2 separate regions of the Homo sapiens genome follow, and region 2 is linked to region 1. The links come from fine-mapping of genetic effects on gene expression. A gene starts in region 1. The other region holds a variant in brackets. All regions are shown on one strand. Distances are from middle to middle.

Region 1 (5,369 bases):
CAGGATTGAACCCCAAGGCAGCCTTGACCCCAAAGCACTAACACCTTTGAGGTCGAGCTCTCCTTGGAACAGTGAAGGGTAGGTGTGCTACAGCAGAGAGGCTGGAGGCAGCACAGCCAGGTCCCCACCACAGTTCTGTGACCTGCTGTGTGACCTCAGGCAAGTCCCATCTTTCTCTGGGCTTCACGTCCTCCCTCTATAACTTAAGCTGTCCTGCTTATGTCATGGACAAAGATAAGAGAAGAATAATGCATTTTTTTTGAGATGGAATCTTGCTCTGTCGCCCAGGCTGTAGTGCAGTGGTATGATCTCGACTCACTGCAACCTCCGCCTCCCGGGTTCAAGTGATTCTCCTGCCTCAGCCTCCTGAGTACCTGGGATTACAGGTGTGCACCACCATGCCCGGCTAATTTTTGTTTGTTTAGTAGAGATGGGGTTTCACCATGTTAGCCAGGCTGGTCTTGAACTCCTCACCTCAGGTGATCTGCCCACTTCGGCCTCCCAAAGTGCTGAAATTACAGGCGTGAGCCACCACACCTGGCCAACGAATGCATTTTGAAAGATGAAAAGTACCTCGACTTTAAGGATCACACCTGGTGCATTCCCTGGTTACCTTCGTTAGGTGGGCAGATACCTACCTATGTGACCTGTGGCTGTGTGACCACAGGCCAGCCCCTGTCCCTCTCTGAATGGGGACTAGACAGAAGAGCTGCTGCTTTCCTCCACCCCCAGGTTGTAATAAGGACCAAACCATGCTCTAAGCGTCCCTAAGAATGCAGATGGGTCCAAGCTCTGCTGTCATGGGGCACAGCCTCCCCTCTCCTGGGGAAGGGGCCCCCATAACAGAGGTGGGGGTTTAGCCAAGTGCCCAGGTTTTGGGTGATGCTGCCCCTTTAAGCCAATTCCCCAGAAATGAAGACTACGTGTCAAGTCTTACAGGGGTGGGAACTAACAAACTCCCAAACTGTGGTAATTGTGGGCGGCCTCCCCAGGCCAGGGCTCCACCCCCCCAGCCCAACTGTGGTGTGTTGAAGAGGGTGGCTTGTCATTTTTCTCAGTTTACCCCCAACCTCAGCCAGGGACTCCTCCCTGTTCTGGTGTCTACAGACCAGGGGTTGTGGCCTTCGATCCCAGTGCCCTGGGGGTACAGAGATGCCAGAGGGGAGAGGCTCCAGGAAGGGGGACTGCCCTTGGCTGACAGGATCCCGCCCCTCTACCAAGATCTACCAAGAGAGCTGGCCCCAGCACGGGGGCGGTGGGGGGGCCGGTCTGACTCCCCTGCACAGCCCGGAGCCCAGTGCTGATGGCACCCCCAACCTGTGCCCGGAAGCCTCCAGCGTGGTCGATCCCTGCCACGTTGGGCCCCAGTGGACTTCAGAGGTTCCTGTCTGCTCCTCTTCAAATCCAGCCAACCACAGGTCCCACTGGGGTTGAGCTGGGCCCTGAAGGCTGGGGTGAAAAGGGCTGGCTGGGCCCAACCTACACCCAGGGAAGGCCCCAAGAGGAAGGAGTAGGGGACCAGAAGGAGGGGTGGGTGTCCCGCGTCGGCCTGTGGCCTCAGAGGTCTGTCGTCTCCCAGCAGGGGGCTCGGGGTCCTCTCTGGCGGCTCGGGCTGGCAGGGCCGTCTGTGAGGGGAGGGGCCTGTCTAGGTGGTGTCTGGGCAGGGAGCGAGCAGACAGGGCCGCCGGGGGCGGGGGCCATCTGCGAAGCTGGGGGTTAGGTGCCCACTCGGTGCCAATGCCCGGGTCTCTCACCAGAGGGCCATCCTGGCCCGGGGGTAGTCCAGCCGCTCCAGAGCGCCCAGGTAGTGGGGCAGCGAGTGTTCGGCATTGCGGGCCAGGATGGCAAGGACCACGGCGGGCAGCGGCGACTCCGCAACGCCCGCAGCCTCCAGCCACGGCCCCAGCAGGAGCAGCAGCTGGAGCAGCGGCGCGGCGCGGGCAGCGCGCATGGCGGGCGCTTGGGCGGCTGCAGCGGCCCCCGGAGCTCTCGGGCCGGCCGAGGGGAGGGGGCGGGGCCTGGGGCCCGGGCGGGGCCGAGGCAGACCCGGAGAGGGCGGGGCAGTGCACCCTCAGAGTGGGATCCTGCTCCCCACCCCTGTGCGTGGATGCTCAAGTTTTCTCTCCTTGGCCCGGGGCACCGGAGGGCCAGGGCCCGGGGACCCGCGCCAGCCGCGACCCTGGAGCAGCCCCGCCCGGCTGGACCCCGGAGGGGCGACGGCGGAGGGGCCGGAGGACCGGACAGGGGAGGGGTGCTAGGACGAGTGCGTCGGGGCCGGCCGGGCGTCCGAGAACAGTAGGGGCTCATGGAACCCCTGGGCGTTGAACCCCCGGAATCCGGATTCCCCGGCCCACGCAGCCGACTCTTCGACCTGAGCCGCAGACCCAGAGGGGCGGCGCCCACTCGGCCACCACCTCCCGGGCTTCCCCGGCTCCCGCCCCATCCTCCGCCCCGGGCGCCCTCTGGCGGCCCTGGCGCTAGCTCCGCAGACCAGCCGGGCCACGCGTGGGCCGGAGACCCAGCGTGGGGGGCGCAGAGGGAGTCCCCCTGAGCTGGGCGCGTCCTCCCGCGGCGGTCCGCTCCTTAAGTCCCCTGTGCGTCACCTCCTTGCGTCGGTCGCCAGCACCCGCATTGCTTCGGCCCTTTAAGAGAGCACAGCCAGGCCGGGCGTGGTAGCTCACGCCTGTAATCCCGGCACTTTGGGAGACCGAGGCGGGAGGATCACCTGAGATCAGTTCAAGACCAGCCTGGCCAAGATGGTGAAATCCCATCTGTACTAAAAATACAAAAATTAGCCGGGCGTCGTGGCGGGTGCCTGTACTCCCAGCTACTTGGGAGGCTGAGGCAGGAGAATCGCTTGAACCCGGGAGGCGGAGGTTGCAGTGAGCCGAGATCGCGCCACTGCACTACAGCCTGGATGACAGACCGAGACTCCGTCTCAAAAAGAAAAAAAAAAAAAGAGCACAGCCCTCACAGCCCTCTCTTGGTCTGAGTGTAGAACTAGGGGACACCACGGAGCTGCTCACTGCGACCCGACCCGTCCGTCCTCCAAAGCAGGGGATGTTGGCTCCCCTGGAGCACCGCCGGGGTCCTTAGGACCCTGCTGGGAGGGAAAGAACTCTGCAGCCTCTCGGGAGAGGAGCAGAAAAGGGAGCGGCCTGGCGGCACCACAGATGGGATCGAACTGGGTGTCTGTCACCAACCTCAGACAGGTCCCTTTCCCTCAGGAGCCTCTCGGGTAAAATCGGGCTGATAACGCCACCCATCTGGGAGGGTTTGCAGGGATTCCTCGAGAGAATGAATGCACTGGCAGCTTTTCCCGCGTGGAGGCTTACACACAGGAAGAGCTCCGCCCTGGGGCTGGGAAGACAGGACTGGAGGAGAGGGAGGCTCCCCCTTCACCCTCCCACCGCTGGGAAGATCTCCTTTCCTAGGAACAGCACGGGGTCTCCCTTCAGCCTTTTCCCAGGGTCAGGGAGGGGAGCCAGGGCTGTGCACACTATCTCCACTGCAAGGGGAGGGCTGAAGGTCCATAGAGGAAGGAACTTACCTAGTGCAGGGGCAGCACGTGCGCACTGAACCCTGGAGTCCTGATCTCTAGCCTAGCTCAAAGCCTCCACCAGGATCGGGTGGCAGCTTCCATTTGAGGCCATTTCTAGGCCAGCGGCCCTGCAATGAGAAGCATTCTGGAGAGATGCCAGATTTCTTCTCCCTTGCACGGTAGTCCCCTGCGGGAAGCCACTCCCAGCCCCAGAAGAGGGATTCCCTTTCTAAAGCAAAGCAGTGTTCCCTACTTCACCCACCCCAGAGTCATTCCACAGCCTCTGCCTGTCCTATTGGTCCAAGGGTGCTATGGTCAGAATGTCCGTGACCCTCAAAACTCACATGTTGAAAACCTAATGTTAATGTCAGGGTATTAAGAAGCGGGGCCGGCACGGCGCGGTGGCTCGCGCTTGTAATCCCAGCACTTTGGGAGGCGGAGGCGGGCGGATCACGAGGTCAGGAGATCAAGACCATCCTGGCTAACACGGCGAAACCCTGTCTCTACTAAAAAATAGAAAAAAATAGCCGGGCGTGGTGGCGGGCGCCTGTAGTCCCAGCTACTCAGGAGGCTGAGGCAGGAGAATGGCGTGAACCCAGGAGGCGGAGCTTGTAGCGAGCCGAGATCGCGCCACTGCACTCCAGCCTGGGCGACGGAGCGAGACTTCTGTCTCAAAAAAAAAAAAACAAAAAACAAAAAACAAAAAAAAAAACAGGCGGGGCCTTTGGGAGTTGATTGGGTGGGCTGCCCCACCTGAATGCGGCTAGTGCCCTTATAAAAGAGGCCTGGGGGCCGGATGCGGTGGCTCACGCCTGTAATCCCAACACTTTGGGAGGCTGAGGGGGGTGGATCATGAGGTCAAGAGATCAAGACCATCCTGGCCAACATAGTGAAACCCCATCTTTACTAAAAATACAAAAATCAGCTGGGTGTGGTGTCGCGTGCCTGTAGTCCCAGCTACTCAGGAGGCTGAGGCAAGAGAATCGCTTGAACCCAGGAGGCAGAGGTTGCAGTGAGCCAAGATCATGCCACTGTACTCTAGCCTGGCAACAGAGCGAGACTCCGTCTCAAAAAGAAAAAAGAGGCCTGGGGAGCTTGTCAACCCCTTCTGCCACATGAAGACACAGCTAGAAGGCCCCAGGTATGAGGAACGGGCCCTTACCAGACACCAAATCTGCTGACGCCTTGACCTTGGACCTCCCAACCCCCCAGAACTATTAGCAATAAATTTCTTTTTTTTTTTTGGCCAGGGGTTGGGGGGTGGTTCAAGCAATTCTCCTGCTTCAGTCTCCTGAGTAGCTGGGATTACAGCCACACACCACTATGCTTGGCTAATTTTTTGTATTTTTAGTAGAGATGGGTTTTCACTACGTTGGTCAGGCTGGTCTCGAATTCCTGACCTCAGGTGATCCAGCTGCCTCAGCCTCCCAAAATGCTGGGATTACAGGTGTGAGCCACTGCACCCGGCTGATAAATTTCTGTTGTTTATACATTATGCAGTCTAAGATATGTTGTTATAGCAGCCCAAACGGACTAAGACAGGGGGCTTCCTGATTCTTCCCTGGCCTCAAGTCCTCCTCTTCCCCCAAGTCCTCCCACCCTCCCCAGGAGTCCAGCCTGTTACTAACTTTCTTGCCTCAGAGTTTTCCCATCACACCTGCCTGGAAAACCCAATAGCCATCTTGTTTTGGGGCAGGTTGGGGCAACTGCAAACTCAGGGTCTCTACCCTCACTTGGGCTCTCACCCAGCCCAAGAATCCTGTTTCCCTGTGTCCCCTGCCCACTCCCCTCAGGGCATTTCAAATGCTTCTAGTCATTGAGGCACGGT
Region 2 (5,365 bases), 70 kb before region 1:
TGTGGTTCATCTTAGGTAGAGCCACGTTTTGATGAAAACCATCTTCCATACCCAACCCTCCCTGGGAGTGGCCTGGTAGGGAGCCCCCAGTCTGATGGGGGCAGGGAGGGCACTGCTCAGAAGGGCCAGGGCCCCAGTGAGGCCTACCTGACTCTTATAGTTGTCAATCATCCCCTCATAGTTCTTCACTGAGGCCTTCAGCTGCTGGACCTCGAGGTGTGCCTGGTTGAGTTTGTCCTCCATTGGAGCAAAGCTGGCCTGGAAGGGATGGCTCATGAGTAACCCACAGGAAGGTTCTGCTTCAGGTGGACCTCCTACCCTCAACTCTATCCAAAGAACCAGAAAAGGAAAGGCCCCCTACTCTAACCCACAGAGCACTTTCCCTGAGAGAAGCACCGAGAAGCAGGTAAGACTCCTAATGTTACCACCTCAAGTGAATAGAGATGCAAATAAATGACTTCTGTTTTTTCTTAATCCAAAAGCAATATATAATCATTAAAGAAAATGGGGATAAAACCAGGCCGGGCGCGGTGGCTCACGCCTATAATCCCAGCACTTTGGGAGGCCGAGGTGGGCGGATCACAAGGTTAGGAGATCAAGACCATCCTGGCTAACACAGTGAAATCCTGTCTCTACTAAAGGTACAAAAAATTAGCCGGGCGTGGTGGCGGGCGCCTGTAGTCCCAGCTACTCGGGAGGCTGAGGCAGGAGGATGGCATGAACCCGAAAGCGGAGCTTGCAGTAAGGTGAGATCGTGCCCCTGCACTCCAGCCTGGGCGACAGAGCAAGACTCCGTCTCAAAAAAAAAAAAAAAAAAGAAAATGGGGATAAAACCAAGACACACTAATCCTAATGCTTAATGACTTGGATATGGCTATATATCTATAGCTGCATAACTTTTTCGTTTCTGTCAAAAAGAATGAGACTATACTATACTTACTGCTATGTAACATAGTTTTTCCCCACCATGGGATCTGCCAGGTTGTATGTAACATACTTTTTATTTGTTTATTTTTTTTTGAGATGGAGTCTCGCTCTGTCACCCAGGCTGGAGTGCAAAGGCACAACCTTGGCTCAATGCAACCTCCACCTCCCAGGTTCAAGCTATTCTCCTGCCTCAGCCTCCAGAGTAGCTGGGATTACAGGGACACACCACCACCCCCACTCCGGCTAATTTTTTATATTTTTGGTAGAGATGGGGTTTTACCATGTTGGCCAGGCTGATCTCAAACTCCAGACCTCAAGTGATCCGCCCACCTCGGCCTCCCAAAGTGCTGGGATTATAGGCGTGAGCCACCACATCTAGCTGTAACACACTTTTAAAATTAACAATATGTTGTGGGCCGGATGTGGTGGCTCACACCTGTAATCCCAGCACTTTGGGAGGCCAAGGTGGGCAGACCACGAGGTCAGGAGTTCGAGACCAGCCTGGCCAATATGGTGAAACCTCATCTCTACTAAAAATACAAAAATCAGCCGGACGTGCTGGCATGTGCCTGTAGTCCCAGCTACTTGGGAGGCTGAGGCAGAAGAATCACTTGAACCTGGGAGGTGGAGGTTGCAGCGAGCTGAGATTGCACCACTGCACTCCAGCCTGGAGGTCTGGAGTTTGAGATCAGCCTGGCCAACATGGTAAAACGCCATCTCTACCAAAAATATATTTAAAAAAAAAAATTATGTTGTGAACTTCTCTCAAGTCAATGAATGTCCTCTCAACTTATAATGCAGGTGGGAAATTTTAAAAATAAATAAATAAATAAATAAATGTCTTCCTATAACCCAATTATTCATCTTAAATGGGACAATATAAATCATGGTGTATCAAATGAATAAAGTAACTAGTAGTCACTTAAAAGAGAGATAAAGCTCAAAAAACCAACCTTAACAGATGTCCGTAAATATAGTTAAATCAGAAAAGCAAGTGACAGAATAATGGATGGATGAGTGGATGTGTGTGTGCTTGATATGTTAGTACTGGGGGATAATCTAGAAAAATATATGTTCATGGCTAGCGAAGATCTTCATGTCTACATCACATTTCTGTAATGTTTTGAATTTTTACTATGAGCATATTTAACTTTTATAATTATACTAGGAAAGGCCAGGCGTGGTGGCTCACACCTATAAACCCAACACTTTGGGAAGCCATGGCAGGTTGATCACCTGAGGTCAGAAGTTCGAGACCAGCCTGGCCAACGTGGTAAAACCCTGTCTCTTACTAAAAATACAAAAAATTAGCGGGGCATGGTGGTGGATGCCTGTAATCCCAGCTACTTGGGAGGCTGAGGCAGGAGAATCACTTGATCCTGGGAGGTGGAAGTTGCAGTGAGCTGAGATCATGCCACTTCACTCCAGCCTGGGCAACAGAGCAAGACTCTGTCTCAAAAAAAAAAAAATTAGACTAGGAAAATATACTTCTACAAACATCATTTTGAATGACCACACTGTAATACACTATACAGATGCACCATACTATAACTAATCCCCTAAATAGTTGTTGGCTTTTAAAATTTTTTTGTAGAGATGGGGTCTTGCTGGGGTTGCCCAGG[C/T]TGGTCTAGAAGTCCTGGCCTCAAGCAGTCCTCTCACATTGAGATTACAGGTGTGAGCCACCATGGCTGGCCTCCTAAATAACTGTTAAGACGTGCATGTTATTTTTAACTTATCCGACAATTACACTATACAAATGAGATACTACTACACTCCCACCGGAGTAGCTAACATAAAATAAGACACTCAATACCAAGCTACCAAGCGTTGCCAAGGAGGCAAGGAGCAACTGTTATCCTTTTACTCACCACTGACAGGTGTGGAGATTTGTTCAACTACTTTACTATTCAGTAACATCTACCAGTAACTACTTTACTACTCAGTGACACACTTTACTATTCAGTGACATCTACCAAATATAGACTTAATGCACACCCCATGATGACCTGGCAATTCTACTTCAAGGTATATAAACAATAAAGACGCACCAAATGTGTACACCTAAAGACATACAAAGATGTTCACAGCAACACTATGGAAACCCAAATGTCCACTGACAGTAGAATGGACAAATATACTGTGGTGTGTTCATATAACGACATACCCTAGAGCGCTGAGGATGAATAAACTCCTCCAAACAATGGGGCTGACTCAACAAACTTGCAGAGTAGACGCCAGGCCCAGGGATATTCAAACTATTCAAATCTCTACAGTTAAAAGCAGGCAACTAATTTGTGGTGACAGGAGATGGGCTAGCAGTTACCTTTACAGGGGTATTAGTAACAAGAAAGGTCACTAGGGTGCAGGCAAGGTTCAATCAGAGTGAGTGATGGACAAAGTATATTCACTTTATGAAAATTCTAGGATCTGTGTACTTTTCCATATGTTATTCTTCCTTAAAATCAATCTTAACAAGAAAAAACAAAATCAGTGAAAAAATAAAGCTAGATGTTATTGCCCAGATCAACAAAAGAGCAAGATAAAACCTGTCTCTGAAATGTCAACCTCTGCTCAGGTGCCTCTCACTCCTGGCAGGCTGGAAGTGGGTATGGTGAGTTTAAGAGCTAGGGCTCGAGTCAGACTCGGGTTCAAATCTCAACTCTGATACTTCCTAGGGCAAAATCTTGGCAAGACACTTGACTTCTCTCTCAGCCTCAGTTTCCTTATTCTCATTTCTTTTCTTTTCTTTTGAGACGGAGTTTCGCTCTGTTGCCCAGGCTGGAGTGCAGTGGCGCAATCTCGGCTCACTGCAACCTCCACTTCCTGGGCTCAAGCAATTCTCCTGCCTCAGCCTCCTGAGTAGCTGGGATTACAGGCACACACCACCATGCCCAGATAATTTTTTTTGTATTTTTAGTACAGACAGGGTTTCGCTATGTTGGCCAGGCTGGTCTTGAACTCCTGACCTCAGGTGATCCGCCTGCCTCAGCCTCCCAAAGTGCTGGGATTACAGACGTGAGCCCGGCCCCTTATTCTCATTTCAAATGGAGATAATCATCATGTTACTGGCAGGTTGGACAGTTTAAGTGAGAATTAATGCCTGTGAAGGGGCCCAGCAGGCCCCCAGGAGAGCCCACATTAACCTCAAATGAGTTCTATCTCATGTGCGCAGGCTGAGTACACCATGTTAAGCATTTCACATGCGTTACCACATTCTCACAAGGACCTCATTTCCTCTACCTAAGGAAGAGGCATGGAATGTTTTTCACTCAGGTCCTACAGCCAGGAAGCAGCAGAGTAAGGACTTGAATCCAGGCTTTCTTTTCTTTTTTGACACAGAGTCTCTCTCTGTTTTCCAGGCTGGAGTGCAGTGGGGCGATCTCGGCTCACCACAGCCTCAACCTCCCAGGCTCAAGCGATTCTCCCAACTCAGCCTCCCGAGTAGCTGGGACTACAGGCGCATGCCTCCACGCCTGGCTACTTTTTGTATGTTTTGCAGACACAGGATTTTGCCATGTTGCCCAGGCTGGTCTCGAACTAGGCTCAAGTGATCCACCTGCCTTGGCCTCCCAAAGTGTTGGGATTACAGGCCTAAGCCACCATGCCTGGTCAAATCCAGGCTTTTCTGACTCCCTCTTAGTCAAGATGCCCCCAGGCCCACGTAAGACAAGACCCCTCATCAGCTCGCTGGGCCCCATCCAGCTGCCTGGTCCCCAGCTCTCACTGCGAACCTTCAGCCTCTCATTCTCCAGCTTGAATGCGGAATACTCAGCAGTCTGACGGTGTAGTCTCTCCACCAGGCTATCCCGGTCTTCCCGCATCTTCTCCTCCAGGGTTTGTTGTTGGTTTACAAGATCTGTTACCCGGCTGGAAGATCACAAAGTGAAAGCAGACAGAGAGAATCAATTACACAGGTTTGTTTGTGTGTGTGTGTGTGTGTGTGTGTGTGTGTTTTGTTTGTTTGTTTTTTTAGACGGAGTCTCGCTCTGTCACCTAGGCTGGAGTGCAGTGGCGCGATCTTGGCTCACTGCAAGCTCCGCCTCCCGTGTTCATGCCATTCTCCTGCCTCAGCCTCCCGAGTAGCTGGGACTACAGGCGCCCACCGCCACGCCCGGCTAAGTTCTTGTATTTTTAGTAGAGACGGGGTTTCACCGTGTTAGCCAGGATGGTCTCGATCTCCTGACCTCGTGATCTGCCCGCCTCGGCCTCCCAAAATGCTGGGATTACAGGTGTGAGCCACCGCACCCGGCCAATTACACAGGTTCTAAAGAACCCAGGTCTTTGTGTGGTGTGGGACCCAGCGTTCTCATCACTCAATATACTGCCTGCCTGCTCCCCAATCTCCACACTGAGAAGCAACTCTGCTGCCCTGCCTTGGCATTGCTGCTGTGGTACTCCCATGCCTGTCCCACCTCTGAACGACGTCCGTTAAGATGTG

What was found. PIP is the estimated chance that this variant, and not a neighbour inherited with it, causes the effect.
Region 2: its variant is the best candidate, but not a certain one, in a credible set for the expression of CERCAM in whole blood (INTERVAL, PIP 0.57).

Annotation. Positions count from the first base shown.
Region 1 is chr9:128,417,460-128,422,828 of GRCh38, reverse strand. CERCAM (cerebral endothelial cell adhesion molecule) reads right to left here and starts at 1,972. Exons shown (of 13, transcript NM_016174.5): 1 at 1,755-1,972. The coding sequence starts at 1,951. RefSeq lists an enhancer at 1,237-1,426 and a silencer at 1,687-2,586.
Region 2 is chr9:128,487,319-128,492,683 of GRCh38, reverse strand. It overlaps ODF2 (outer dense fiber of sperm tails 2), which reads right to left. Exons shown (of 21, transcript NM_001351578.2): 14 at 4,659-4,794; 15 at 148-258. It overlaps LOC124902281 (a long non-coding RNA gene), which reads left to right and starts at 4,287. Exons shown (of 2, transcript XR_007061803.1): 1 at 4,287-4,841. The variant C/T (reference allele first, on the strand shown) is at 2,550.